Linked DNA regions of Homo sapiens: all the other regions are linked to region 1. The links come from fine-mapping of genetic effects on plasma protein levels. A gene starts in region 1. Each other region holds a variant in brackets. All regions are shown on one strand. Distances are between the middles of the regions.

Evidence for each region. A credible set is the group of variants that fine-mapping cannot tell apart. PIP is the chance, under the fine-mapping model, that this variant and not a neighbour inherited with it causes the effect. The UK Biobank Pharma Proteomics Project read protein levels with antibody pairs (Olink). The fine-mapping took linkage between variants from a reference panel, not from the people measured, so its PIPs are less certain.
Region 2: its variant is the best candidate, but not a certain one, in a credible set for the plasma level of the LRPAP1 protein (UK Biobank, PIP 0.55).
Region 3: its variant is the best candidate, but not a certain one, in a credible set for the plasma level of the LRPAP1 protein (UK Biobank, PIP 0.88).
Region 4: its variant is the best candidate, but not a certain one, in a credible set for the plasma level of the LRPAP1 protein (UK Biobank, PIP 0.63). The variant lies in the coding sequence of LRPAP1. If it changes the protein, the assay may bind it differently, which can mimic a change of level.

The regions. Positions count from the first base shown.
Region 1 is chr4:3,528,724-3,535,978 of GRCh38, forward strand. LRPAP1 (LDL receptor related protein associated protein 1) reads right to left here and starts at 3,699. Exons shown (of 8, transcript NM_002337.4): 1 at 3,486-3,699. The coding sequence starts at 3,689. RefSeq lists enhancers at 1-321, 3,479-3,688 and silencers at 3,189-3,438, 3,879-3,938.
Region 2 is chr4:3,167,948-3,175,202 of GRCh38, forward strand. HTT (huntingtin) reads left to right here. Exons shown (of 67, transcript NM_001388492.1): 30 at 4,373-4,450; 31 at 4,961-5,184; 32 at 6,774-6,852; 33 at 6,999-7,160. Among named protein-coding and RNA genes, the nearest start is that of MSANTD1, 78 kb to the right of the region's middle. The variant G/A (reference allele first, on the strand shown) is at 3,863.
Region 3 is chr4:3,253,818-3,261,072 of GRCh38, forward strand. MSANTD1 (Myb/SANT DNA binding domain containing 1) reads left to right here. Exons shown (of 3, transcript NM_001042690.2): 3 at 1,908-2,796. The coding sequence ends at 2,148. Among named protein-coding and RNA genes, the nearest start is that of MSANTD1, 8.3 kb to the left of the region's middle. The variant G/A (reference allele first, on the strand shown) is at 4,052.
Region 4 is chr4:3,512,502-3,519,756 of GRCh38, forward strand. LRPAP1 (LDL receptor related protein associated protein 1) reads right to left here. Exons shown (of 8, transcript NM_002337.4): 4 at 6,370-6,490; 5 at 5,533-5,691; 6 at 3,615-3,697; 7 at 2,251-2,427; 8 at 1-535. The coding sequence ends at 473. Among named protein-coding and RNA genes, the nearest start is that of LRPAP1, 16 kb to the right of the region's middle. RefSeq lists enhancers at 2,228-3,427, 3,693-4,312. The variant G/A (reference allele first, on the strand shown) is at 2,332.

The DNA.
Region 1 (7,255 bases):
TGCACTGTCCCAGCCCAGCCACTGTGCCCCAGCTCCTTCCACCTGAGCTCCGTGGACAAGGGCACAGCCGTACCCGCCTTGAGCTGCTGTGAGGTCATGCATTGGCCTGGCGAGTCCTAGGTGCCCATGGAGGCCACTGGCTGGCCCATCCTCAGAGGCCCTTCTCAAGCCAGGGGGGACGCTTGAGAGCTGGGGTGGGGCTCTGAGGGCTCCTCTCTGCAGACCTCAGTTTCCACTCGTCAGACCTCTGAGAACAAGATGCTTCACACACTCTCATTGCAGTCACCATTCACGTCAGAACTAAGGACTGTCTGCGTGCGGTGCCTCCTGGGACTACACCTGTAATCCCAACACTTTAGGAGGCAGAGGCGGGAGGATCACTTGAGCCCAGGAGTTCGAGACCAGCCTGGCCAACATGGTGAAACCCCGTCTCTACTAAAAATATAAAAATTAGCCAGGCATGGTGGTGCATGCCTGTAATCCCAGCTACTCAGGAGGCTGAGGCACGAGAATCGCTTGAACCTGGGAGGCGGAGGTTGCAGTGAGCCGAGATCACGCCACTGCACCCCAGCCTCGGCGACAGAGTGAGACTCTGTCTCAAAAAAAACAAAAAAACAAAAAACCAAAAAAACTAAGGACCTATGGCCAAGGACTCCGAGCTCATGGCACCGTGCAGCCCAGGCCAAGAGGTACACGAGTGTGTCCCTGAGCGCCGCAGCTGGACCATGCAGACCCTGGAGCTTACTCCTCAGCATCAACACAACACACAGAGCTCTGAAGAGGCAGAGTCCTCAGAAGTCGTCTGTGAGCACAAGGGCTCTGCATGGCCTCTGACCTCCAAAGCTCCAGGGACAGCCTCTGCTCAGGAGTCTTGCAACACAGTGGAGCCCGCCTGTGAAAGAGGAACTGGGAGAGTCACAGAAAGTCAAGATTCAAGTTGCTGGAGAGGATGAAGCAGCACCCCCCTGGCCGGGTCTCGCCTGATGAAAGCGGGTCTCAGCATCTTCTTGGCGGCAACCTCAACGCAGGTCTCACAGCCCAAGCCCATCAAAGGCAAAGGTTTCCTGAAACGCTCCCTTCACCCTATGCCTACTGACACACTACGCAATCCTATATGCCAGGATGTGGCTTTACATGCAGAAAACAGGGACACGATGTTTTCATGAAGCAAACCAAAGAAAGGACAAGACCGTCCTGGCTGCTGAGCGCAGGTCGCAGGAGGCTGAGAGCAGTGGCTGCAGAGCCGGGCAGGAAGTGCTTCTCTGAAAAAGCAGCCCTCACCTCAATTATCTTCCAGGGGGCGATCCAAGACCCCGTCTCCGTCTGATACCTACCTAGAGCGGCGAGTCAGGTGGGGTAAGAAGCCGACTGGAGTGACTATTTGCACGAACAATTCTCTCCCCCTACGTTTGAACTGACTGTGGCTCCTCCTGCCTCCTGACCACCCTGGGCCCTGGCACGCTCGGCAGAAAGAGCCACAGCACAAAGACCACCCGGGATGCACTACCGCCACTGAGAACCTCAAAAAGACCCGGACGGGTCTGACGCCTGCACACTTGGCTCCAGGATAGAACACCCTCACAGCACCGCCACCCTCCAAGCTTCCGTTATCTGGAAGGAAAATCAGGACGAATGGGCTCTGCAGGCCTGCCTGCCATAGTACCAGGCTCTCTGGAATGGGGGAAGACACACAAAATCCCCCAAAACACCCTCACCCCCGAAGAACTTCACGTTCTGTTCAGCAAAAAAGACTTGCCCACACAACTAGAACTTCAGGACTTAAAGGGACCAGAAAGATCATCTAGTCCAAGGCTCAGTCCAAAGTGGAGGTGAGCAGCTCGCCCTACCATGGTGCCCAGTGAACCTCAGGGAGGTTTAGGAGACATGACCCAACCCAAGACTGAAACTGGTCAGGCGAGCACCCAGCACCGGGGGACAGTGCAGGGGCAGCCCGAGGGTAGCTGGACCAGTGCAGGGGCAGCCTGAGGGCAGGTGTATTGCTGCAGGAGGCCTGGGCTGACAAAGACAGAGGACCAGCTGGAGGTGGCTGGAGGTAAGGTGGAGCGCACCAGGGCGGCCCTGCAGAGCAGGTGGAAGACTTGGGCCAGCACCCAAAAGGGAGCCGCTGGGGTTCCTGGGTCCGAGTGCACTTCCTCAGCGCCACCTCCAATCGGTCAGGGAGTCTATTTCGGGCTCCCCATTCCTCATGGGGAGGGGGGACTCCACCCACTCAACAGATGCCCAGTGCAGTGGGCACGGGGAGGCAGCACTGCATCCCGGCTGCTCCTGGTCACACCTGTTCCCTGCTGCTGGGAGGCCATCAACACATCCAAACCCAGCCGTGTCCCCAGCCCCTCCAGAATCCCTTCCTCCAAGAAGCCGCCCTGCCGCTCCAGCCCAGAGCGTTCTCCCACCTCCCACCTCCGCAGGCTGAACATTACGCCTGGGGCTTGACTGCTGGTCCCAGGAGCAGTTCAGGAAGGGCCTGTGGAGCTGATGCCCAGGCGTCAATCCCCATCCCCACGCAGTCTTATAACCGTCTGTCGTCTGTCTGTCCCCCACCTGTTTCTCCTCTCCCTTTTCGTTCCAAAAGTTCCTTCTTATTCTGCAAATCACTTACTTTCCCTCTCAAAGACTCAGGAATGCTTAAAACTGGACTATTGAGACAGAGATCTAATCTGACTCCTGCATTTGAGATGAGATAATGAGGCCCAGATGGTCGGCATAGTTCGAAAACACCCATTTCAGGTGTTTTCAGGAACACCTAACAAATGAAGCAACCGTATCTTAATGAAGAGAGCAGCTGGCCCAGGGTCACGCACCAATTAGGAAGCTGTTGTCCCGGGGGGCCCCACCGGCCGAGCCACCTTGGGGGTGCCCTTTCCCCTCGGGGCCTCCGTACCCTCATCTCTCAAATGAAGGAGAGGTCAGGTGAGCGCCCTGTTAAGACTGACTTTCAGCATTCCCAAGGTCGCGTTTTATGTGCTCTAAACCGATCCCATCTCCTCACCTCCTCATTTCTCGCTCAAATGAACAAGCACGGGCTTGCTACTGGGATTCCTTCTGTCCCTGGACACGTCTTTCTACCCAACATTTTGTTTTTCTTGTTTCCCCACATAGGGAGATAAGGTTGAGGGAACAGGCAAAGGCTCGGGAGGCAGGAGACCTGTGATCTAGCCTGGTTCTGTCCCTACGCTCGGGTCAGCAGGCCGCCCAGGCTGGGGAGGGCGACACTGACCCTCGGGGTGCCGGCCGCCACCTGCTTCACACGGCGTCGTCGCCGGCACGGGTACCTTTCCTGCTGCAGAAGGGGTCGGGGCGCCCCACCTGACACTTGGGGGAGGCTGTGCCAAGGACAGGGCGCGTAGGGCACAGGTGCCCCGGCTGCGCCCCCCTCCGCCTCCGACCCCTGGGCCCCGCTCCAACGACCCCAACCACGGCCCCCGCCCCCAGGCCCCGCTCCACCGACCGCGGGCCGCGCTCACTCGCTGGGCCTTCTCCCACAGCTGGTTCAACTTCTCCATGCGGAACTCCTCTCCGGACTCGCGTTTCGGGGACGGCTTGGGCTGGTTCTTCTCCCGCGAGTACTTGCCGCCGTGGCTCGCAGCGGGCCAGGGCCCGAGGAAGAGCAGCAGCAGTAGCAGCGCCGGGAGCCCGCGCAGAAACGACCTGACCCTCCGCGGCGCCATCTTCCTCTGCGACTGGCGCTGCGCGGAGAAAACCTAGCCTGCCGATGCCCCGCCCACTACCCCGCCCCCACCCACCGCGCGGTCTCCTGGGAATTGTAGTTCCTCCGTGAGCGGCCGGCAGCGGCGAGGCCGCCGGCGGACTCCAGCGCCTAGGAAGCCCTGCGCAGGCGCAAGCGTTTCCCAGGCAACCACGCCGCGGCCCGAGGCTGCAGACTCTGGCAGGGGATACAACTGGAGAATGAGGGTGGCCGGGTGGGAGCAGGGATCAGGCCTCACCCAGAGCCCGGAGCCTGGAGCCCGCACGACTCGAGGCCTCTTTCCCTCTCTGCCCCACAGAAAGAGCGGAAAGCCCAAGAACCGGGCCGCGTTTGGCTGAGCCTGATAATGCTCCGGCTTCACGCGCACTGACGCCGACTCTTGCATGTCCAGTGCCGTTGCGGGGTTGGCACTGCGGCCCGGGCCTGGCGCTGAGGAGCCTGGCCCAGCCCGCTTCTGCCCTCCGCGGAGCGCCTGGCCGTGGGTAAGCCCAGGCCAGGTTGTCCCGGGGACGCAGGGCCGCGCAGACGTCCCCCTACGTCCCGGGGCCCCTGCCCCAACCCGCGTCCCAAGCGCCTGCTCTCGCGCCTGCTGCAAGGCAGGACTTCGCGCGCTTTTCCCCAACCCATGACACTCTAGGAAATTCACAGAGCCAAAGTTAGCATAGACCGCTCGTTGGGGGCTTGGCCAGTGAGTTGGGAAGTGCCCTGGAGGTAGCGCGGGAAACAAGGGGAAGGAGGGAGACAGACAGCAGCTGGGCCCCTTTGGGCTCAGAGAAGGGACAAGGGGAGCTCATCTGGCAAGAATGATCTGAAAAGGCCTCCAAGGGTGGGCGGGATTTTGCGGGGGGAGGGAGGAATTTCCAACTGGAGGGACAATGACAAAGGGGGTGAATAGAGCCTGGGCATCTTGAGAGGAATTAATGTTAATTCATTTCCTTTTTTTGCGTGGGGGGATAGGGTCTCTGTCATCGAGGCTGGAGTGCAGTGGCATGATCATGGCTCACTGCAGCCTCGACCTCCTGGGCTAAAGCGATCCTCCTGCCTCAGCCTCCCAAGTAGCTGGAACTATAGGTGCGTGTCACCACGCCCAGCTAATTTTTGAAATTTTTTGGTAGAAATTAGGTCTCCCTATGTTGTCCAGGCTGTTCTCCAACTCCTGGGCTCAAGCAACCCTCCCGTCTTGGTCCCCCAAAGTGCTGGGATTACAGGCGTGGGCCACTGGGCCTACCCTAATTTACATTTAAATTGTATCTTGTGTTGTTCCAGAGAAGATTTCAGGTCCCTGGAATCAAGGTGATCTGCTTCTGTCCTGTGCTGCTTTTCTAGTATTTTCAGAGCCATCGTTTCATTTCTTTTTTTCCAGCTGTTGAGTTGTTTCAGGCAAGAGGGTAAATTCAGTCTGTTACTGCATCTTAGCTGGAAGCACAAGTTCCCAATATGGGATGTATGGGGGAGAGGAGGTAAAGGAATCCCCCAGGAGGGTGGTGGAGGGAGAATGACCTCATGCGAAGTGACTCCAGAGACAGATCAAATGCTGTCATTGCCATCATTGCATGTTTTTAAGCCTCAGGACAGAATGGCCAGGTGAGCCTGGCCTAGATTCTCACCTGTGCCTGCCTTCCCCTTGTGTTCCCTCGTTCCTGCTCTTCTCTCCATCTCCTGGTGCCTAGAATCAGAGGTCACCTGTTTTACCCCACATACATGTTTTGCCCTGACCCCACTCCTGAGAGCTACAGGTAGGTCTTGGTGGGCTTAGAAGGGGATAGTCCAAATTGGCCTATCCCCCCCAAGCATGTCCCTGTTGGTCATCTGGAATGTGGTCCTAACTGCAAATGTTCCAGCTCTGTGAATCCTGCCCCCAGTGTCTCTAGAAAGGCCCGTTATAAACCCACAGGAATTGGAAGCTGGACTGGGAGCAGAGTCTTCTGGGATCCTGCATCTGACAGTGGTGTGGGGTTCTAAGAGCCCTTTTCCTATACAGCCCGGTTTCCCAGATAACTAAGCAATATTTTATTCGTGGCTGCATACACAGGCAATGAAACTAAAGAAAGTCAGGGGATGGCTAAAGGATGGAGGATACCTGGGCTGGGGGAGGAGGGAGAATGCGACGGGTGAACACAGACAGGCTTCCAAAGTGGTGTCCAGGTTGTAGTTCTTCACTAGGTGGTGGGCACACAGGCATGCATTTTTCCTTATCTTTAAATTGTACATATTTCATACACTTCTCCGTATGTATTATACATTTCAAACTAGTACATCTTCTAAAAAATCACAGTGGTTAATGCAATCAGTACAGGTGCCAGGCACATACCAGAGACTCCAGGTGACGGCATGCTCTCCTCTTGGGCTCCTCCTCTAGGGCTGAAAGTTTATTTCTCACCCCTGCCGCCAGCACCCGCCATGCCAGCCCGTGTCTCTAAGTGCTGAGGGGAAGGTGTATGAACAGAGACAGATACGGCCGTGGAGGAACCCGGAGGGAGGGCCCTCCACTTGGTGAGGACGGATTGTGAGGCTGGTCAGTGCTGAAGCTGAGTATCTTGCTTACGAGAGAAAAGGGGAACTGTGCTTATAGGACCATCTCTCAGAGCAAAACAAATTGAGTCTCTTGGGAAGCCTGGCATTGAGGATTGTCCAGCTTTCAGAAGTGAGAGTGTTCAGCCTGACTTCAGGGGCACAAGGTTCTTGCTGCCTGGGCCTGTTCTGTAGTGTGGGGCTGTCCCTGACTGGCCGGCTTTCAGAAGCATGCAGCATTGTCATTGACTTATTGGGGTTTCATGCCACCACGGCCAAAAAGCAGTTTGTTTTTGTCCTTGAGTTTGGACTATAGATTGTTATTCTCTCCAGGCAAAGGCAGGAAGCACACGGGAACAGGTAGCGCCAGGTGGCTGCAGGCAGGTGGTCTGGCTGGAGCTCAGTGCAGAAGCACAAGACGGTGGTGAAGAGTGAGGCAGACCCAGGGGACTGAAACGCCACTGGAAGGAAGATTCCACCCAGAGCAATGGGGGCCACAGAGTGATCCTGAGGGGAGAGTTACACAGAGATGCGTTTGAGGAAAAGCAGAGACCAGTGGGAATGCTGGTGCTCTCCGCCAGAGGAGAGGCGAAGGTGATCGGGATGAGATAGAGACACGGAGGCAGTGAAGATGGAGAGGCCATGTGAAGGTGGAAGGGACAGAATTTGGTGACAAGCGTCCAGACTGACGCCCAGGTTTCCACTTGGGGAGACCAGAAGGTGGCAGGGCGAATTCCAATGCCAGGTCTCCAGGGAGAGCACGCTCAGGAGGAAGATGAGAGTCCGGGTCCCTGTGGGATGGACGTGGAGCCCTCCAGGGGCACTGAACTCTATAGATCTGCCAGTCAGGGGCAGAGGGGTCCAGGGCAGAGGAGACAGAGATCTGGGCACCACCCACGAAGGCACAGTGGGCAGGGGATGGAGCCCTCTGGAGGGAGCCAGCGCAAGGGTGCGAGAAGGAGCTTGCAAAGGAAGCAGAGCGGCAGCCAGGACAAGGGAAGGTGCCCGCGAGGAATT
Region 2 (7,255 bases), 360 kb before region 1:
GGCCCATTTTAGCTTTCTCGCATATCCTTTTGTTTGTACTTTGGAAGCCTCACCTGCTTAATTGTTGAGTTTTTATCCGTGGTCTTTTAGAGGGGGATATGTAGGGTAGAAGCTTTCACAGGTTCTTGTTTGCACTTGGCCCCTGACTGTTTTGAGGAATCTCCCTCACTGACTCACAGCATGGCAAGGTTTCAGATCTCTTTCTGCCACACAGCAGTTCTGAGGCAGCTGGAAAGATATCCAGATGCTTAGATTGTCAGGCCAGGCTTGAGATATACAAACTATTGAGCCTTATCTGTGACCTTGCTTAGGTGAAGGCATCAGAGCCCCTGCACCAACATGCATAGGCCTCTGCATGTGTGCGGGGCTGGGTGTTGAGGTCTGAGCACAAGTGTAGCTGGAGAGGTGAGCTTGATGTGGCGACGGGTATGAGCAGGTTTTCTTCAGACTTCTGTGAGTTTACCTAGTTCCAGGATTTAAAGGCACAGAGACTTTAGAATTAAAATAGAATCATTTTCTTTTTCTAAATAGCAACACTAGGAATAAAAAATAATAATTCCACATTCTTGACAGGTAATGTTTTTTCTTGTCTTCTAATCCTTATTTATTCCATACTCATTTTTATACATAATTGAAATGTATTATGCATTGGATTTTTCTTTTGCATTATATTATAGACGATTTTTCATGTAACTCCTTACTGTTCCATTTTATATGTTTTGTCTGGTTTAAGACTTTATCTGCAAACCGGGAAACTGTCTCTACAAAAAGAAAAACAAAAATAGTTGGCCGCAGTGGCATGCGTCTGTGGTCCCAGCTACTCGGGGCTGAGGTGGGAGGATTGCTTGAGCCTTGGGAGGTTGAGGCTGCAAAGAGCCATGATCATGCCATTGCACTCCAGCATGGGTGACAGACTTTATACTGTCTGTTTTGGGTGATTTGATAATGATATGCCCTGATGTAGTTTTTTTATATCTTGTGTTTCTTGTGCCTGGGTTTATTGAGGTTGGGTCTGTGGCTTCATAGTATTTTTAAAGTTTGGAAAATTTTAGGCCATTCTTTCTTTCTTTCTTTCTTTTTTTTTTTTTTGAGACAGTGTCTCGCTCTGTCGCCTGCGTTGGAGTGCAGTGACACTATCTTGGCTCACTGCAAGCTCTGCCTCCTGGGTTCACGCCATTCTCCTGCCTCAGCCTCCTGAGTAGCTGGGACTACAGGCGCCTGCCACCACGCCTGGCTAATTTTTTGTATTTTTAGTAGAGACGAGGTTTCACTGTGTTAGCCAGGATGGTCTCAATCTCCTGACCTCGTGATCTGCCCGCCTGGGCCTCCCAAAGTGCTGGGATTACAGGCGTGAGCCACTGCACCCAGCTAGGCCATTATTTCTTCAAAGATTTTTTTTCTGCCCTGCCTCCCTCCTTTTTTCCCTCTCTTAAAGGGGCTGTGATTTCCTGAATGATTGCTTAGTGTTGTCCCATAGCTTACTGATGCTCTTTTCAGTGTTTGATTGTTTTATGTGTTTTCTGTTTTGTATAGTTTCTATTATTGTGTTTTCAAGTTCTCTGATCTTTTCTTCTACAGTGTCTACTCTGTTGTTAATCTGTTAATCTGTTGTTAATCCTGTCCAGCGTATTTTTTTTTTTGTTTTTGAAACAGTCTCACTCTGTTGCCCAGGCTGGAGTTTAGTGGTGCGATATCAGCTCACTGCAACCTCCACCTCCCAGGCTCAAGCAATTCTTCTGCCTCAGCCTCCCGAGTAGCTGGGACTATAGGCACGTGCCACCACACCTGGCTAATTTGTGTATTTTTATTAGAGATGGGGTTTCACCATGTTGGCCAAACTGGCCTTGAACTCCTGACCTCAGGTGATTCATCCGCCTCGGTCTCCCAAAGTGTTGGGATTATAGGCATGAGCCACCGTGTCTGGCCCCTGTTCAGTGTATATCACTAATTTTGTTTTTATCTCTAGAAGTTTGATTTAGGTCTTTTAAAAATGTCTCCCTGTGTTTCTGTTTAGCTTTGTGAACACAATTGTAATAACTGTTTTAATATCCTTCTCTGCTAGTTCTAAGATCTTCTAATAACTTCCCAGTTCTTGGTGTTTCTCATTGGTTGATTGATACTCCTCGTTTTGGGTTGTATTTTCCTGCCTCTTTGTATGGCTGCCAATTTTTTATTGGATGCCCAACCTTGTGAATTTTACTTTGTTGGATGCTATATATTTTTGTGTTCCCATAGATCTTCTTGAGCTTTGTTCTGAGGTTAGTTGAGTTACATATAGATGGTTTACTCTTTTGGGTCTTGCTTTATAATTTGTCAGATGGGTTGGAGCAGTGCTTAGTTTAGGACTAATTTTTTTTTTGGACTAATTATTCCTCTTTAGGAATAATTAGGTACCATGCTTAGGAGGCAAGACCATCCTGAGTACTCTACCTAATGAACCAGAAAGTTTGGGTTTTCCAGTCCGCCTGCTGAGAACAGTGACTTTCTAGCCCTGTGTGAGCGCTGAGCTCTGCTCCTTCTAATCCTTTCCAATGCTTCTTTCCCTGGCCTCAGGGAGTTTTCTCACACACATATCTCTGCTGAGTACTCGAGAGGGACCTTCCCCAGATCTCCAGAGCTCTCTCTGTCTTGTTTTCTCTTCTCTGGTGCTCTGTCTTATGAACTGTGGCTGTCTTGGTCTCCTTAGATTCTCAGCACCTCTTCAATTCAGAGGGTTGCCTGTCCCTCCTCCTTGTGCCACAGCCTAGGAACTCTCTCAAAGCAGCGAGTTGGGGCAGCCATAGGGCTGACTTAGTCTCTCGTCTCCCAGGGATCACTGTCCTTCATTGCTCATGTCCAGTGTCTTGAGGACTCTGGGTTTTGTCTGTTTTGTTTTTTGGTTTGCTTTGGTTGTCTCAGGCAGGAGGGTAAACCCAGTCCCTCACCCTCATTGTGCTCAGTAGTGGAAGTCTCACTCTATTACATTAGATATTAGTATTTGTAGCAGAGCCCTGGTTCCCTGGTACTTGGGGAGCTCTTGAAAGGCCAGAAACAGCATGCTTTCTCACCTTTTCCAGGGCTTCAGTTTCTGGTGCACATCAAGCATTCCATACACATTTGTTAAAGTCCTTTGTTAGACAAGTAGTGATTCACAGGTTCTATTTGTAATTTTTTCAGTTAACATGTATTGGGTATCTGCTGGGAGCTAGTAAAAACAAAAAGTGGTGTGTGACAAATTCAATTCTGACAAGAACAACCTTAAACACTTAGAATATACTTTGAGCATATCAGAATTTTAAAAATGTGTGGCCCTTGAGTATTTGAAACCAACAAGAATCTATTGCTTATTAGTAGAGGATATTTTGTTAAACAAGTGGAGAGAGAGGCATTTTCAGTCTAATTGGTGTTGGCTTTTAGCAGCTGATGGAAACCAGTTCGTGATTAGCCAGGCAGTGGTGAAACAGGCTGTGCATTCTGAATGCCTAGGTATCTAGGCATTCAGAATGGTGGCGCTCTTTGAGTTAGCATCTTCTTCTTTCTTGATTCTTTTTTTTTTTTTTTTGAGATGGACTTTCGCTCTTGTTGCCCAGGTAACAACTCCAGTGCAATGGCGCCATCTCGGCTCACTGTAACCTCTGCCTCCCTGGTTCAAGCGATTCTCCTGCCTCAGCCTCTCAAGTAGCTGGGATTACAGGTGTGCGCCACCACGCCTGGCTAATTTTGTATTTTTGGTAGAGATGGGGTTTCACTATATTGGTCAGGCTGGTCTTGAACTCCTGACCTCAAGTGATGCACCTGCCTCGATCTCCCAAAATGCTGGGATTACAGGCGTGAGCCACCACTCCCAGCCCCTTCTTGATTCTTGAAAAGGACATTGGGTGCT[G/A]TACATCTCGTTATAGATGTTGATAAAAATGCTTGTGAGAAGAGTAACATTAAGGTAGTTATTTGGTCATTTTTGCAGATTATTTTAAGACAATTCTAGGACTGATTTGTGGTAAATCACACATTGCTGTATCATAGTTGTGTTCACTGAACATATTCAGGGGCTCTACAGATGCAGGGCTCTTAGCTGCTTTGCACACTTCTGAATTCCTGCCCTGCGAACAGGACTGGATACCTAATAGACAACAGGTACTTGATAACAGTTTATTGAATTAATGAGTGAATGAACAGATACATAAATGCATGAAAGAATGGTTGTAATGTATATAACTTGGATTTCAAGACTTTTTACTGACTGTTCAAAATAAGAAATTGAAAACTTTCCTCTGATTTTCCTCTACTATTTACACAATTTAAATGGAAGTTATCTTGTACCTTCAATTTCTGTCTAGGATTCGTACAATAACGGGTCATCTCTGAGTCGCTTAATGTCTCACTTGTCTTTCTACAGTGTGTTGAAGAGATCCTAGGATACCTGAAATCCTGCTTTAGTCGAGAACCAATGATGGCAACTGTTTGTGTTCAACAAGTAAGAGCTTCATTCTTTTCCTCTTCTGTTAAGACGTTCGGGTATGACAGCAAAACGCTGCTACTCCTTAAGAGGCAGGCGCTGTTGGCATAATCAGCTGGGAGGATTGTGGGGTCCAGCGCAGCACTTTTTGGCTCAGTCCATGATTGAGCCAAGAGGCCATCCTTCCCTTCACTCCCCAGGAGGACGAGGTCTGTCACTGTGGAGGGCAGAGGACACCAGAAGCTCCTCTGCAACCTCGCTAGTTAACTTCCAGTCCCTCGGAGTTTCTGTTTAGAATGCTCAATCTCATTTAGAATTGCAAGGAAACCCAAAACGCCTATTTAAGGTACAAACAGCACTTCATACAATATCTCATGAGGTATTAATAGTGATTCACAGGAAGAATTTCACGCTGTGAGTCTTTGCTAACATATCCAGTTATTTACAGATGGATTTGATATTTGTGTGGGAGATTCTTAAAAGTGTTGTTCACGCCACATTGTTGATGCCTCATTTTTTTCACTGTAGTTGTTGAAGACTCTCTTTGGCACAAACTTGGCCTCCCAGTTTGATGGCTTATCTTCCAACCCCAGCAAGTCACAAGGCCGAGCACAGCGCCTTGGCTCCTCCAGTGTGAGGCCAGGCTTGTACCACTACTGCTTCATGGCCCCGTACACCCACTTCACCCAGGCCCTCGCTGACGCCAGCCTGAGGAACATGGTGCAGGCGGAGCAGGAGAACGACACCTCGGGGTAACAGTTGTGGCAAGAATGCTGTCGTTGGTGGAAGCACGAAAGAGCAAGCAGGAAATACTTTGTAAAAGAATAAAAACGAAAAATGTTAGCGAACATCTTCTAATAGTCTGCTGTATTCAGAGAACTCTAGGAGATATATATGGTTGATGCAAAGATGATTTAAGGCATAGCCCGGCCTTCCAAGAAGTGTGTGGCCAGTGAGTGAGATGGGCTTGGGACTTACACATCTCAGAGGTGGGGGTAGAGGAGGAGGAACACTGAGTGGGCTGAGAAGCAGCCAGCTCTCATTGCCAAAGTGTGTCAGCAAACCAGAATGCAGTTCATAATGTCCCCACCCATTCAAAGCACAGGACCTGTAGAGTGGTGTGGCATGTGTTGGTGGCACTTTTCAGGCCTGTAACAAGGATGAAAGAACAGCTTCATAGCAGCACAGTAGTGCTGGTGTTCAGAGGTGTGTGAAGGCCATAGAAGCATCTTGGATATATTACCTTGTGTTTTGTCAGCTTTATGACTAGAAGTCTCTTTTCACTTAAATTTGTTTTTTTTTTTTTTGAGACGGAGTCTTGCTCTGTCGCCCAGGCTGGAGTGCAGTGGTGCAATCTCAGCTCACTGCAAGCTCTGCATCCTGGGTTCATGCCATTCTCCTGCCTCAGCCTCCCGAGTAGCTGGGACTACAGGCGCCTGCCATCACGCCTGGCTAACTTTTTTTTGTATTTTTAGTAGAGACGGGGTTTCACCATGTTAGCCAGGATGGTCTCGATCTCCTGACCTCGTGATCTGCCCGTCCCGGCCTCCCAAAGTGCTGGGATTACAGGCGTGAGCCACCGCGCCCGGCCTCTTTTCACTTAAATTTATGTTTGTGTTTTTAATGCCTAGTATACAGGACTTCTTAAATTGCCTTAAGTATGAACAGGTATTTGAGTTGCTAATCTGTATAGTAGCAATAATAGAATCCCTTGTTTTTCCTTTTATAAATTTAGCGATTAAATAGCTACAATTAAAACACTAGAGTCAGGAGTCAAGGAAAATACCCATGTTCCAGGCTGTATGTTAGTGATGTACTTACTATATATTGGAGTTTCAGGAGTAAGTCTGTTTCAATGCTTTCTGTAACCATTTGGGGTATTAATAAGCATGTGAGTGTGTGCATGTTTGGGTTAATTTCATATATGTTTCTTAGAAGGGATATCATTGATGTAAATATTTTAAAGGCTTGTCCTCCAAAAAAATCATGTAATTTCTTCTAAATTACTGATCTTTTAAATGACCTTCACCTTTCTCTCAAATCTCACTTAAGACTGGGCTGAGTAGTCAGTTTCCTGTAGCAGAAAAAAGCTCAGACTTGAGTAGCCTTCTGCGAGTGAGGAGACTTGATGGCTGTCAGGCAGCTGTAAACTCTAAATAGAGTGTCATTATCTGAAGAGGGCGATGCTGCCACACTGAGTGGCCTTTCAAGTTGTTTCTCAATCTGACACGTTCTGATCGTGTGAATGTGAAATTGGTTTGAGCAGGAGTATATCTGAGTGCAGAGGAGATTATTTAAAGATATTCTCATTCTCTGCTTCCCTTTTATTCCCATTTGGCAGATGGTTTGATGTCCTCCAGAAAGTGTCTACCCAGTTGAAGACAAACCTCACGAGTGTCACAAAGAACCGTGCAGATAAGGTAAATGGTGCCGTTTGTGGCATGTGAACTCAGGCGTGTCAGTGCTAGAGAGGAAACTGGAGCTGAGACTTTCCAGGTATTTTGCTTGAAGCTTTTAGTTGAAGGCTTACTTATGGATTCTTTCTTTCTTTTTTTCTTTTTTATAGAATGCTATTCATAATCACATTCGTTTGTTTGAACCTCTTGTTATAAAAGCTTTAAAACAGTACACGACTACAACATGTGTGCAGTTACAGAAGCAGGTTTTAGATTTGCTGGCGCAGCTGGTTCAGTTACGGGTTAATTACTGTCTTCTGGATTCAGATCAGGTTTGTCACTTTTATCTTTCATCCATCATACCTGTTCCTAATTTAGTACAAATTACCCTAAAAGACACTGAAATCTACTTTAAAGAAATGTGGTC
Region 3 (7,255 bases), 270 kb before region 1:
GGCCCGGCACACGGAGGGAGACCAAGCCCCAGACCCCAGAATGCGCCCCCTGGCCTCCCTTAGCCCACACAGACCCCACCCTCACAGGCTAGCTGCCCTCTCAGCACTGGGGAGGGTGTCGGGCTGCACCTCATCACGTGTTGCCGTGGGCATGACCCGTCCCCTCTGCCATCCATCCCACACCTCAGACCCGTCCCGTGCTGGCCACGTGACTGTGCCTGCAAGATGCTCACAGGGCAGCCGGGAGCCAGGCAGCATGCAGGACAGACACCTGCGGGGTGGGCCTGGGGAGCCCAGAGAAGGTGCTTTTGAGGAGGGGACATTTGGGGTGGGCTTTCAAGGTAAAATAGAAGTTGGCCATTTGGAGGCAAGAACAGGAAGATTGTGGATTTGAGTCACAGCTTCTCCCCTGCCCTGGTCTTCAAGTCTTTCTGACAGGAGGTGTCAGAAAAGTATCTTTAGTAGAGAAGGCGTCTCCGAGGAGGGTCCCTCTCATGCCGGGGGCCGCTGCTTGACTCAGGATTTCTCATTGAAGACCTGAGACAAAAACGCTTTTGCTGGCAGCTAGAAGGAACCAGCAGGAGGCCTGAGATTTGTGGCTGTTGTTCCCGTGGACTGAGCCCAGTTCTCAGACTCAGCTGCCTGGGGCCTTGCACAGGACTGGGGCGTGGGGGCTGCCCTCCCTGATCAGGCCCAAAGCGCGGATCTCACGCCCCTGAGGTTGGCTGTACCCTCTCAGCTCAGAGCAGAGTGTGGGCCAGGGATGAGCAGGCACTGGAGCAGGGCCCTGGGGTCTGTGGGTTTTGGCAGCTCCCTGCCCTTCAGGGAGGTCTGCTGAGACCACGGGTGGCCCCTACCCCAGCAGCAGAGCTCTCAGGAGGCGCCCACAGGGCTGGACTGCCTTTACTCACCACCTCTACCAGAGCTCTGAGGTCCTGGGGAGAGAGCCCAGGCCTCTTGTGGGCCCCACACCCTCTAGGTGCCTGTCCTTCTGCCTCTCTACCAAGGTGTGCCGGCCCCATTTCTAGGCCGCCGGGAGATAAGGGGGCTCACATCTCAGGCCCTTCCTTCTGGGACCTCAGTTTCCCCATCTGCCTAAGGCCGGGTGGGGCTGGTGGTCTTGGCTTCCCTACAGGGGTCCTGAGTACTCTGCACTACCCAGCACCCCCCACCCCTGCCTTCATCTCTCCCTGGGGGTGGTCTCTCCACCCCTGGCCCCCAACTGGGGCTGAGCCCCCACCTGCCCAGTTTGGTGGGTGAAGGGTGCTCCCTGGCAGGATATGCCCCTCTGCAGCCCAGAACATCCCACCCTTTCCAGACCGAAGGGGTGTGGATTGTCCTGGGACCCTGGTCATTGGGGTCATCCGCTAGTCGCAAAGGACGGCAATGCCTGTGGCCTCTCTTTCTTTCTTTTTCTTTTTTTTTTTTTTTGAGACGGAGTCTCGCTCTTGTGCAGAGAGCAGTGGCGCGATCTTGGCTCACTGCAACCTCCGCCTCGTGGGTTCAAGCGATTCTCCTGCCTCAGCCTCCCGAGTAGCTGGGATTACAGGCACCCGCCACAACGCCTGGCTAATTTTTGTATTTTTAGTAGAGATGGGGTTTCACCATGTTGGCCAGGCTGGTCTTGAACTCCTGACCTCAGGTGATCCACCTGCCTCTGCCTCCCAAAGTGCTGGGATTACAGGCATAAGCCTCCACACCCGGCCACCCCTGTTACTTTCTGTCAAAGGCGGTGGGTTCTGGCCCCTCCTTTGCACATGGAATATGAGACCCTGAGTAAGTGACCTGACTCCCTGGGGCCTCAGTTTCCCCATTTGCCCAGTAGGATTGTCGGGAGGGTCCGGTGAGGCCCCTGGTGTGCCCAGGCTCTGTGGCCAGCACGTCCACAGCCGGCACTGTCCTTCCAGGTCGGAGGAGCGGCCGGTGAAGAAGCGCAAGGTGCAGAGCTGCCACCTGCAGAAGAAGCAGCTGCGGCTGCTGGAGGCCATGGTGGAGGAGCAGCGCCGGCTGAGCCGCGCCGTGGAGGAGACCTGCCGCGAGGTGCGCCGCGTGCTGGACCAGCAGCACATCCTGCAGGTGCAGAGCCTGCAGCTGCAGGAGCGCATGATGAGTCTGCTGGAGAGGATCATCACCAAGTCCAGCGTCTAGGCCAGCAGGCGGCGGCGGCGGCGGGGCCGGGCGGCTGGTGGTACTGCTCAGGCCACCCAGGGCAGGCCACTCAGGCCAGGCGGGCAAGGGGGCCGCCCCGCGAGCGGAGACCGCCTTCCACCTGGCCTCTGGCAGGATGTCCCTTCTGAGGGGTATTTTGAGGAACCCCCAGGCCCTGGGGACCGTGAGGCTCCAGTCTCCAGCATGAATGCCCTTCCTCGGACACAGGCCAGGGCCTCTGGGGTTCACTCCGAGTAAGAACGTCCTAGAGCCACTCTCCAGTGTCGTTACTATCAATGATACTTGACGTGGCTTTGATATTAAACGTATACTTTTTCATTCTTGCCTGGAACGCACAGTTTGCTGTTGCTGGCTTGGTGAGGATGCCCTGATTGATGGATCCCGAAAATGAAAGCAGATGGAAACGGGTTGGGGCAGGCTGGAGCTGGGGGAGCTCTCTCCTGAAGGGAACCCTGTGTCCTCCCTCACCAGGACCTCTGCGTCTCTCCTTAAATGGCCTCTGACGCCTGATGAAAACCCCAGCGACCTTCCAGGAGGCTTTTATTCAGCTCTGTTTGGAGCATCAGGTGTTTCCACTGCCTCCTTAGCAATGACACTAATAAAAGTCGTAACACCTGTTCACATGCACAGCCCTGTTGAGTGTTCTGGGTGCTGGAGATATCATGGTGGATGACACAAAGGCCCTGGCCTCTTGGAGCTTATGCTCCCATGCGGGGAAGACACATGGGTCAGTAGAGAAATGGTTGCAGGTTGTGATAAGTGCTGGAAGGGAGGGGTTGGCCTGAGGACACGGAGGCAGACATACGTGGAGCTGGGAACAGTGGCCACACAGGGAACGGCCAGTGCGAAGGCCCAGAGGCAGAGGACACTGGAGCAAGCCCAGGAGCAGCTAGGAGGCTGGTGGCCAGCAGCCAGGCCACGGAAGCCCGTGCAGCCCGTGGGGAGGAGTGTTCATGCTTTTCAAGCTTAGTGGGAGTCTTTTGGCCAGTGCAGCTCTGGGTCTGACATCGGTGGGGGACAGAGGGGTGGTGGAGCGGCCACAGCTGCAAGCTCACCTCACTGCCGGCCCTTCCACCAGTTTCAAACTCTTTCTAGAAGCTCCAGCTTTCCCAAAGCTGAATTCTCTATGAGCCTCCTTGGCCGGGACTCGGGCGTCTGGTTGCCCTGGCTGCAAAGGAGGCTGGGGCCAGGTGTGTTTGAGTCACCTCCTGGAATTAGGCAAGTTGCTGCCCAAATAGAAGGTTGTTGGCAGGTGGGTCAGCAGGTGAACAGCATGGTTTGACTCAGGGTTCAGAAAAATCTCCCTCTGGCTGCCAAGCGAGCAGGCCGTGGAGACAGGTGCAGAGGCAGGTGTGGCAGCAGGCATCCTGCCAGGCAGTGCTGCAGTCATCCTGCGACAAGCAGCAGCAGCTCATCCTACCCTCTAGGGGGTCTTGAGGTCAGCCAGGCAAGAGAGCAGCTTGGACTCCACTGGGTGTGGGACCAGCCTGTGGACCATGGTGGTGTGGAGGGTGCCCTCGGCCTGCCTGTGTGAAGGAGAGGCCGGCGTGTTCTGTGGAGCCCAAAGGGGAGCTGGGCAAGCAGGATTCACTTCACTCTGAGGGTCCTGGAGCTCCCACCCTCCTCAGCCATCTCCCCAGAGCCTGTGTGCCGAGGACTCGGCCCATGTTGCTGTGGGATGAGAGGCAGAGTGTCGTGAGGGTGTAAGGAGCGGCGGCAGTGGTGGGAGGAGGGAGCAGCAGCCAGCGCTACGGTGCCAGTTTCCAGCTGCCAGATGACGCCGCTGACCCTGTGGTTGAGAAGAGATGCACAGAGCCAGCTCTTGCAAGCCAGTGTGGCTGCCATAGCACCTGCCGAGAAGCAGAAGGAAGGGTGGCCCCAG[G/A]AGGACAGAGGATGCGGGCACATCTGATGCGGGCCTGAGTTTTGGGAGCTTTTGCTCTAGCCAGTTTCCAGCTCCGGGACCCACCCGCCTCGTAGGCAAGACACCACCCAAGAAATCATTTGCTTAACAAACACACTGGGCTCCAACTGGACACCTGTGCCACCCTAGATGCTGGGAACCCAGCCATGACACAGGCACCTGCCCCCAGCTGCTGACCACTGAGGCTGGCTAGCAGCTCCCATGGGGCCAGTGTGGGGTTCCCCAGCCTCCTAACAGGGAGCCAGTCACAAGCCCTCGAGAGGGAAGGGTGCCCGCGGCCCTGGCAGGAAGGTTAGGCTGGACGCTCCCACAAGACATAACAGATGGAGGTTCTAAATGATGTAGCAACTTCTTCACCCTGAAACTGCTGTAGAGTCAGCCATGACGCACCGGTACTTCAGTAACTGCCAGGCATCCGGGACAGCACACCGCGAGTCGCTGCTGTGCTTGGGTTAGAAGTGGTTTGGTCTGTTTTCTTCTCGCCCTCTCTAATCAGAGTCAGTGATTCATGCCCTTCCATCACCTTAGAGAAGGGGCAGGCGCTGCCCGACCTTCTCCAGGCTGGAGCAGCATCGCCTCATGTCAGCAGAACTCAGCTGTAGAATATCGTGGGGTTGGTGCCTTTCATCAGCAGCATGTCCTTAACAACTTTCTGATTTCTTCCTTAGTTGTTGGTCCATTAAGGAGAAAAAAAATGATCTCAGCCATTGCTAAAATATTTGATAAGATTCAGCAAAGCAGCATGTTAACATTGAAAACTAGAATCAGGAGCCAGGCAGATGTGCTTGCTTTTCACCTGTAGTATTTCATGTTGTTTTGACGTTTTTAGCTAATGCATTAAGATAAATAAACAAAAGCCGGGCACGGTGGTTCACGCCTGTAATCCCAGCACTTTGGGAGGCTGAGGCGGGAGGATCCTCTGAGGTCAGGAGTTCAAGACCAGCCTGACCAACATGGAGAAACCTCGTCATTACTAAAAATACAAAATTAGCTGGGCGTGGTGGTGCATGCCTGTAATCCCAGCTACTTGGGAGGCTGAGGCAGGAGAATCGCTTGAACCCGGGAGGCGGAGGTTGCAGTGAGCTGAGATTGCACCACTGCACTCCAGCCTGGGTGACAGTGAAACTCGGTCTCAAAAAAAAAAAAAAATTAAAAAAAGATAAATAAAATAAGCAGGATAAGAAATGAAGAAAGTAGAGTTACCTTTGTTTTCAGATTTCATTTTTGTATACCCAGAAAGCCAAATGTACAAAAGACTGGGAGCTCTTTAAACCAGCTTAAACTTGTTGAAAATGAGGATGAAGAAATATCCCATTCAGAGTTGGAATGAATTTAACCCAGAAGGAACAGGACCTCTACTGAAGAGAACTATGCAGTCTTACTGAAAAATCTAAATAATACCTGAGCGCTGGAGAAACTTCGCACACTCCTGAAAGCTCCAAAGTCAATGTCATCATTTTATTAATGTCATTCCAAACATAGTCTCAATAATATCACTTCTTGGTTTTGACATGGACGCGATGATGTTTAAATTCATATGAAAAAAGAACGGGGCCAAAAGTCCAAGGCCAGTCAGCGTGAGAAGACCGCTCGGCCTCCCTCGGAGTCGGGGAGTTGGAACCGCAGACTGAGATCATGTGGCTGCTGGAGGCCAGGACGAACGTCGGGAAATGGAGACTCCTGCGTTGCTGGTGGGATGTGGTGCAGCCGCTTCCAGGAGCAATTTGGTGTCCCGTCCTAAAGCTGAAGAAACGCATTTCCTCTGGTCAGTGCCACTCCTAGACAGGCCACCCTGCGGCAGCCGTCCTCAAACTGGTCTGAGGACCCCTCAACGCTCTTAAAAATCATTAAAAGTGGGCCAGGTGCGGTGGCTCACACCTGTAATCCCAGCACTTTGGGAGGCCAAGACAGGCGGATCACGAGGTCAGGACATTGAGATCATCCTGGCTAACACGGTGAAACCCCGTCTCTACTAAAAATACAAAAAATTAGCCGGGCGTGGTGGCGGGCGCCTGTAGTCCCAGCTACTTGGGAGGCTGAGCCAGGAGAATGGCGTGAACCCAGGAGGTGGAGCTTGCAGTGAGCTGAGATCACTCCACTGCACTCCAGCCTGGGCAGCAGAGCGAGACTCTGTCTCAAAAAAAAATAATAAATAAATAAATAAAAATAAAATAAAATAAAATTCATTAAAAGTGCCAAAGAACTTTTGCTTATGTGAGTTCTAATGACCAATATTAATACACATTAGAATATCTTATTAGAAATTAAACCTGAGACCTTTAGAAAACATGTATTCATTTCAAAATAGCAATAAACCCATGACATATTAACATAAATAACAATTGTATGAAAAATATATTTTCCAAAACAAAAAGTTTTCGGGAGAAGTGTGGCATAGTTTTACATGGTCGTAAATCTCTGGCTTAAGAGAAGCCCACTGGCCTCTCAGCAGGCTCTGGGTCCGTCCACTTTGGGGGTGTTTTGGTTGTGAAGTATAGGAGTGAATGGAGAAGCTCATTCTTACCCAGATGTGTATTTGAAAAGAAAAGGAACATTTTAATAACCTTTGCAAATAATCGGTATATTCTTCCGTGATCCTATTCCAACACTGGACAGGTGGTGGTTTGTTTTTTTTTTTTGGAGACGGAGTCCCGCTCTGTCACTCAGGCTGGAGTGCAGTGGCGCGATTTCAGCTCACTGCAAGCTCCGCCTCCTGGGTTCACTGCAAGCTCTGCCTCCCGGGTTCACGCCATTCTCCTGCCTCAGCCTCCTGAGTAGCTGGGACTACAGGCGCCCGCCACCACACCTGGCTAATTTTTTGTATTTTTAGTAGAGATGGGGTTTCACTGTGTTAGCCAGGATGGTCTCAATCTCCTGACATCGTGATCCACCCGCCTCGGCCTCCCAAAGTGCTGGAATTACAGGTGTTAGCCCGGCCGACAGGTGGTGGTTTTTTACTGGCCGGTTGTGTGTGGAATCTGATACCCTATCAATGAACTTCTACTTCATTTCAGGAGAATCCATTGGTCCGTCTTGTGCTTCAAGGACTCTGTCCATCATGCCTTTGTGACCTCACACGCTGGGCCTTTGGTTCACTAAGTTATGCGGATATTCCAAATGCTGACACAGTTCCTTAATCAGTATTTTAAAATCACTTTTGGCGAT
Region 4 (7,255 bases), 16 kb before region 1:
TCCCTTCAAGAGCACTGGCTCCGGCCCCAGCCACCAGGACACTTAGTGACCAGCCAACAAGCGGGTGGTTTAAATACTGCACTCTATTTTTTAAGGACTCTGTGCATGGTATTTCCGGTGGCAGATGTGTAAGATTTTTTATGTAAATCGTGTTGTTTTAGCAGAGGACTATCAGACCTGACAGCAGCTGGACATCGAGGTCCTCACTGGGGTGGTGACTGCCACGCTGATGCTGAGTGGAAGCCAAGCCCCTTCAGTCAGAGCTGGGCCGATCTCAGACCCAAATGCTACCACCACCAAGCCCTGTGTCGCGACGGCAGCGGCTGCAGTCACCAGAAACAATCCTTCCTGCCTCGACACCCGTGCCAGCCCCAGCCACCCTGACGGCGGGCTGTCCACGGAAATGCCACGGCCAAGAGCCCAGGTCCTTCACGCTGGCCTCTTCCCTGCCGGGCTGGGCTCCCCAATGCCTTCAGAGTTCGTTGTGCCGAGCTCTGGAGATCCTGCCGGACAGGTCCTGCAGATGCTTCTTCACCTGTGGACAGAAACGTCTCATCAGCTGGGGACAGCGCGCCTCGAGGCCAGCTCTGTGAGCTCAGCCTCATGTCAGGAGACGCGCGATCCAAAAGGAAAAGGCGCAAGCCCTGCACATCTGACTTTCCAATTCCACACCCATCCAGAAATGCTCAAATCACAAAAGCAGCTCAGTACTAACTAGAAAATCCCACCAAAGAACGCTAAGAGCCACCAGCCAGGAGCAGTTCATGCTGAAGTGGAAAGCTCAGGGTCTCTGTGATAGGCCCATGGTGTTATTTATTTACTTACTGAAAGGGTCTCGCTCTGTCACCCAGGCTGGAGTGCAGTGGCATGATCTCAGCTCACTGCAACCTCTGCCTCCCAGGCTCAAGTGATCCTCCCACCTCAGCCTCCCATGTACTTAGGACTACAGGTGCCCACCGCCACGCCCGGCTAATTTTTTCTACTTTTGGTAGAGATGGGGTTCTACCATGTTGCCCAGGCTGGTCTCGAACTCCTGAGCTCAGATGATCCACCCACCTCAGCCTCCCAAAGTGCTGGGATTACAGGTGTAAGCCACTGTGCCCAGCCCCACAGTGTTATTTTTAAAAGCAATGACCAGAGAGACTGGGACAGAGCTCTGGGAAAGGCGCCTTCCTCCTCAGGGCCTGGGAGGGAAGGAGAGGGACCTCCAGCTCCTCACATCACAACAGCCCAGAGCATCCCCACAGATACCACCCCAGTGGCAGCAGGTGCTGCGTCAGCCCAGCCTGGGCTGGGGTCACTGTAGCTCTCCCCAGATTCTCACAAAACCCTGCTCGTGGGCGCCACCTCCCTCTCCACATAGAAGCCCGTGGCTCAGGGTGAATAACTCACCGAAGGTCCCTTCTCTCAGCGGCCCTGACCTCTGCCCCAACGGTGCGGGTGCCTCAGGCAGTGCCACACGGCTTTCTTAACCAACACCGAGCTTTGCCGTGGTCAGGTGAAGCTAGGTGCACGCTAGCATTCCATCCCCGCGTCTCGCGGGAGCGCCCTGCAAACCCCACATGGTGGTGCTCACCCTGGACCTGAGCTCCTGCCCACGGGCAAGGGCCACAGGCTGCTCTCCTGCACATTCTGCCAGGCAGACCCGCACCACCCTCTCCTATCAGAACTTCTACCTTCATTTATTTTTTAGGCCTTTGCTATTTTTGAATCGGTAACACATGCCTGCAGTTCAAAGTTTAAAAGGCACAGATGGGGCTCCTGAGCCCCAGCTCCCTCCAGAAAGAACTTGGCATGAGCTTCCAGGGTTTTCTGTGCCTCTGTGGCAAGGCTGTGCGCTGGCTTCAGCTTCTCCTGGGCTCTGCCCCTCCTCCCCTCACATCCCAGGGGCTGTGGGGAAGGAGGCTCGCCTGTCTCAAAGGCTGGAGAGTGCCCTGACTCATGGGCTGGCTGTGGGTATCCAGGTCACGCCCCATCCTGGTCACAGGAGGACGAGGCAGTGGCCCGCCGGGGCCTGCGCTCTCACCTGAGGGTCGGGGGACTGCACTACAAGCCCGGGGGGCTCCCCTAGCATGGCTGCTGTGGCCTTCAGTGCCCCACACACTTGTGGCCCTGGGGTTCAACTCGGACAGGGAAGACAGCAGCGTGGGGCCCACACCCCATCTACAGGAAGCCCTGAGCTGCATGTGGGCGGCCTCATCTTTCCTGCAGGGGAACTGTGGCCTCCCCGGTCCTGGAACCCGTGCGCACCGTGTAGCCCAGCTCCTTGGTCCGCCCCTCCAGCAGGGCGTGCTTCTCGCGGCTGCGGCTCACACGCTCGCCGTCGCCCAC[G/A]CTCTCTGCGTGCCTCAGCTTCTCGTGCGCAATCTCCAGCTGCTTCTGGTAGTGGTTGTGCTTCTCGATTTTGGCTTCGAAGTGCTTGAGCTCCTCCTGGAACAAGGTTTCCATAGGTGAGTGTTCCCTTCCCGTGCTCGCCACGCCATCTTGTGGTCCCGGGTGAACTGCAAGGACGCCAAAGGACGGCGCCATACCCGGGGCAGGACAGGCCTTGCGGTGACATGGGCAATGAGGGGGCGGCAGCTGGGAGGCCATCACACTAGCAACGGGTCCCAGCCCGCGCCTCCTTGGCAGCCCTAAGCCGACCCCTTCCCTGTCTCTGCAAATGGCACCCCCGCCCCCCGAATCTAGGGGGCCTCCAGCTCGTTCCCAGCCAGACCCCATGTCCAGGGGCTGTGCTTCTGTGGTGGCTGCCTCTGCACCCTGCCCCCAGCCTGCCTGGGCTCCACTGCTGCTGGACTGCAGCTCTGTCCCTGCTCCTGTAGGTGCCCTGCCCTGCCTTGACCCCACGCTCCAGACCCAGGGCCCTCCATGTGGCCCCACCTGCCAAGCCCCATGCACGTGCCTGCGGCCAGCTAAGGTGCCCCAGCCCCAGAGGGAAGCTCCTGACCCCTTTCTGGGGGAGGTGCTAAGGGCCCTTCCTGGGGCCAGGAAAGTCCCAAGTCCTATGAGGGCAGGACCACACCCACCTCCCTCCCAACAGACACCAGCTATAGGGACCCTGGGTGAACTCATGGCCGGATACCATACTCAAGGCTGCCCACCCAGGACCCCCGATGGACTCCCCACTCCTCACAGCCCTGCTGGGTGCTCACCGAGCTGATGAATTCTCCACCCTCAGAATGATCTGGCACTCCACACGCCCCAGGAGCCCCTGCCACCTGAGGTGGTCTCCTTCCCTCCCTGGGCCTCCATCTCAGGAAGTGGTGACACCCCTAAACGATCCCGGTAGTGTCCTTGGTCCCCTCCCCCCAGGCTGTGGCTGGGTCCCGACCAACTGTTGACCATCCACAGGACCCGCACCAAGGCCACGCTCAGACGTGAACACGGACAAAAGAACCAAAGCCCCTCCCTCCAGAGCCTGGCCCCGCCCCTGAAACACGAGTTCCCACGCAGATGAGAAGGAAAACGCAAGCAGGTTCACCGAGTGGTTAAGGAAGAAACTGCGAGAATCTTGAGAGAGAGAGCTTGGAGGAGAGGGCTGCATTTCCTTACCCGGAAACTGCAAGAGAATCTTCACCACAGGAGAGAGCTAGAAGGAGAGGGCCGTGTTTCCTTACCCGGAACGCCTCCAGCTCCTTGTCCGTGAGGTTGGCGGACTGCGCCAGGTCCCACAGGTCAATCACCCTGGGCTCCTCGAACTCTGCAGGGGAGGAGCAAGAGTGGCCTCAGCAGCACCCGGGGTGCACACCACAGCCAGCCCCGCGGCAACCACGCTGAGTGTGCGTGGAGCCTATGAGGGTTTGCAGGCGCGACCTGCATGTGTGTGAAACACGGGTGCGTGCACTCAAAGTCTTATGGGGCACAGAGGGCATCTGCTCAGTAGCTCACATGACCTCGCTGAAATGTGGCTTCTCTGTCCCCTTGGCCAAACAACTGCTTCTCCTTTGTGTCCAGAAACACCTGCCTCCATCAGAGCCTGGGAAGCGCCACAGCCCGCCCTGGCTGCCTCTGAAGCAGGAGGCAGAGGATGGACGTGGCCTGTGTGCAGAGGCTGCCAGGACCTCGGGTGGGGGCACCTGCAAGTTCAGCCAGGTCCAGACGCAGGCACAGGCCGTTTCCCTTCGGTCCTGCTCAGGGTCTCCAGCAGGATGTTGTGCTCGTGAAAGTCAAACATTCGGGCTCCTGGGAGGAGCCAAACAAACCAAGACGGCTCCTGGACCCTGGTGCTCACGAAGGGACGCAGTGAGAGACTCCGGGGCTGTCACCACTCTCCAACCAGGAGTGAGTAGTCCAGAGCCGCCTGCCCATGGAGCCCCGCAACAGTGGCCCCTGCTCCCTCCTCTGCTGACCCCTTCCTGCTCAGGACCCCGAGGACCCTGGGCTGGTGGGGCTTGCTGGAAGGCCCAGGCAGACCCGCAAGAGAACTGCAGGAGCCGCTGGACACAACTGCCTTGGGGACAGCCCGAGGTGGGAAGAGAAGTGTGTGGGGCTGAGTCGCCCTTTCCTGCATGGACTATAGCCAGGCTCATCCGGGTCTCTCCAGCACAGGAACTCAGCAAACTGCATCGCAGGCCTACAAGGTGGTCCAGCCCCCAGCACTACGGCCAAAAGCCTACGGCTGACAGTCACCAGCACCAGGTCAGGCTAAGGGAGCCTGGGTTTGGGGGTGGGTGGTGAGGGGTCTTGCCCAAGGGCACTCAGGTGACAGCAGCACAGCCACCCAAGGGGACCTGGGCCCGCGTGGACACATTTGACTGCTGTGCTGGAGGCTGCCTCTGGGCAGACCATCCTGGAGACGAGGCGGTGGCTCTGCCTGGCACCGGGGACAGAGACCAGCCCTGCTGTCTTATCACCATGAGGGCACAGATGCCATCTCCTGGCGGCTGCTGTCTCCTCGAGCCTAGAGCAGTGCCTGGCGTGCAGCTGGTGCTCAGTGTGCACGTGGAGGATGAGGTACAGAATCGGAAGCTGCGTGAGTGAGGCCAGCAGGCTTCTGGTACACCCTGCACAAGGCTCTGGCCCGGGTACGGGGCAAGAAGCAGTGGTGCAGAGCCTGGCCACTGAGGGCCTGCAGTGGAGGGAGATGAGCTGCTGAGACGGAGCCACAAGCTCTGTGGCCTCAGCGGGCGTCCTGCCCCTGCCGGGCTGAGGGGGACTGATGGACGGTGTGGGTGGCATGAGATGGAGACGGAGCTATGTTTGACGAGTGGTCTCTGTTCTTGGCCAACAGCAGCACGGGAGGGGCCGTGCTGCTGAGGCTGGGGAGACGCTGGGAAGGGCTGCTCCCAGGCCCGCTGCCGCCACTGCCCTCTGCTAGTCTCCAGGTACAAGGCTGGGGACGGCGAGTGACCTTCACGGAGCAGCTCCTGGGAGCGAGGCCTGTGACCACCCGTGGGTAGACTGAGCGCGCCGAGGGTCTCCGCTGCGTCCACAGGCCCAGGTTCCCGTCGCTACAAGCACCTGCCTGCTTGTCCCCAAAACACAACCAGAGACGGCCCCACCCTCGGGAACCAACAGTCCCGGGCGGGCACTCACCAGCCTCAGTGCTGTAGCCCTGGTGGCTGACCCTGCGCAGGCGGTCCAGGCCCTGGTTGATGCTGCGCAGCTTCTCCTTCAGCTCCGTGTGCCTGCTGTGCAGGACGCTGCCCTTGATGTCGCTCAGGTCCGAGGGGCTAATGACGTTCTCGTGGATTTCTGTAAAACCGAAGGCAGGACGCCATGAGGCTGGGAGTCCTCGCACTGCCTGCCCAGACCACTGTCTAGAACGCCCACTGCTGGGGAGCTCAAACTCGCTCTCATTTCTGGGCTGAAAATGTCCCCCTTCCGCGGTCCTGCAGCGCCGCAGAAACGACCGTTGGCACAGCTTCCTTTCCAGGCGAGACAGGCGAGACGCCGGGACACGCGCACCAAGTGGCGCCTGGCGGTGACAGCTGGGGCACCAGGTCCCCTGGGGGCTGACTCTGGACCCCTGCCCTGCCCCCTCTCTGCTGGGTCACCCTCCATTTTACTCCAGCTTTGTGGGGTGGGAAAGTCACACATTTGGGGAGGGTCACGAGTCCAGAATGAAGGACCCATCAGCGAAGCTCAGGTCTGACAAAGGCAGCAGCTGTGCCCATAGTGGGGGCAGGCGCCGGTGAGACTTGGTTCATCCAATGCAGGCAGGCGACTCCCAGAGCCTGCCTGCACAGCAACCTCCCCACTCACAAGTCCGGTGGAACCCTGGGAGGGCGTCTGGTGCCGCCTCCCTGCCCCTGCTGTGTTCCTGAGGGGAGCTGAGGCTGCCCACTGAGCACAACGAGCCTCAGGTGCAGGAGGGGTGGGGGGCAGGAGGGGGTGGGGCAGAGGGCAGGAGGGGGTGGGGGCGGGGGGCACCTTCGGTCCTGCTCAGGGTCTCCAGCAGGACGTTGTACTCGTGAACTTTCTCTTTGTGATGCAGGAACTCCCGCCAGAGCTTGTCCAGTTCTTCGCCGGAGAATTTCCCAGAGGTCTTCGCCTAAGAGGGAAACAAGGCCTGGAGTGAACCCGCCGCGGGCTCGTGTGGCCAGGGCCGCTCTTCAGCCAACCACTCCTCATGGCCAGGCAGGCCCTTGCCTACGTGAGTGCCAGGCCAGGTTCTTGGCCTCACGAAGGGCAGGAAAACAAAAAACAAACCGGAGAAGAGCTGCCGGCAGGCAACCACCCTTCTCTTGGACGTGTCCAGGCTCAACAGGGGACAGCTACCGAGCTGGCTGGGGTGGGGAGCAGAAGATCCCAAGGAGGGGGACAGGGCAGCAGCCCGGTGACCCCGGGCTTGCCTGGCTCTCCCGGCTGCAGGTGGTGAGGACAGCAAGGCCACCTTCCTAGGGGGACCTCTGCCAGCCCCTCATTGTCATCCCACCTGCCTCCTGGTTGTGAGATGACGTGGCTCACACACGTCCAGGGAGGCCACACAGGGCCCTCTCTCCCTCTCTGCCCCCTTCTACCGACTCCATCTCTCCTGGCCAAGGACATTGAGCTGAGACTGGGCTAGTACAAGAAGTCTAACTGTTGACCCCAAATCAATGTGATCCAGAGAAACTGTTCTGGAGCAGGAGCCGCTGGAAATGGGGGAGCTGCGGCAGGTAAACACCCTGCCACAGCCCACCAGGCCCTGCTGGGTCCCAGCGCCTGGCCCCGCACCCTTCCCAGGCACAGGGTGAAAGCCCAGCCCCACACACGAGGGCACCTTTCTAATCACAGAGGCACGTCCACGGCACCACTCACTACATTAAAAATCCGA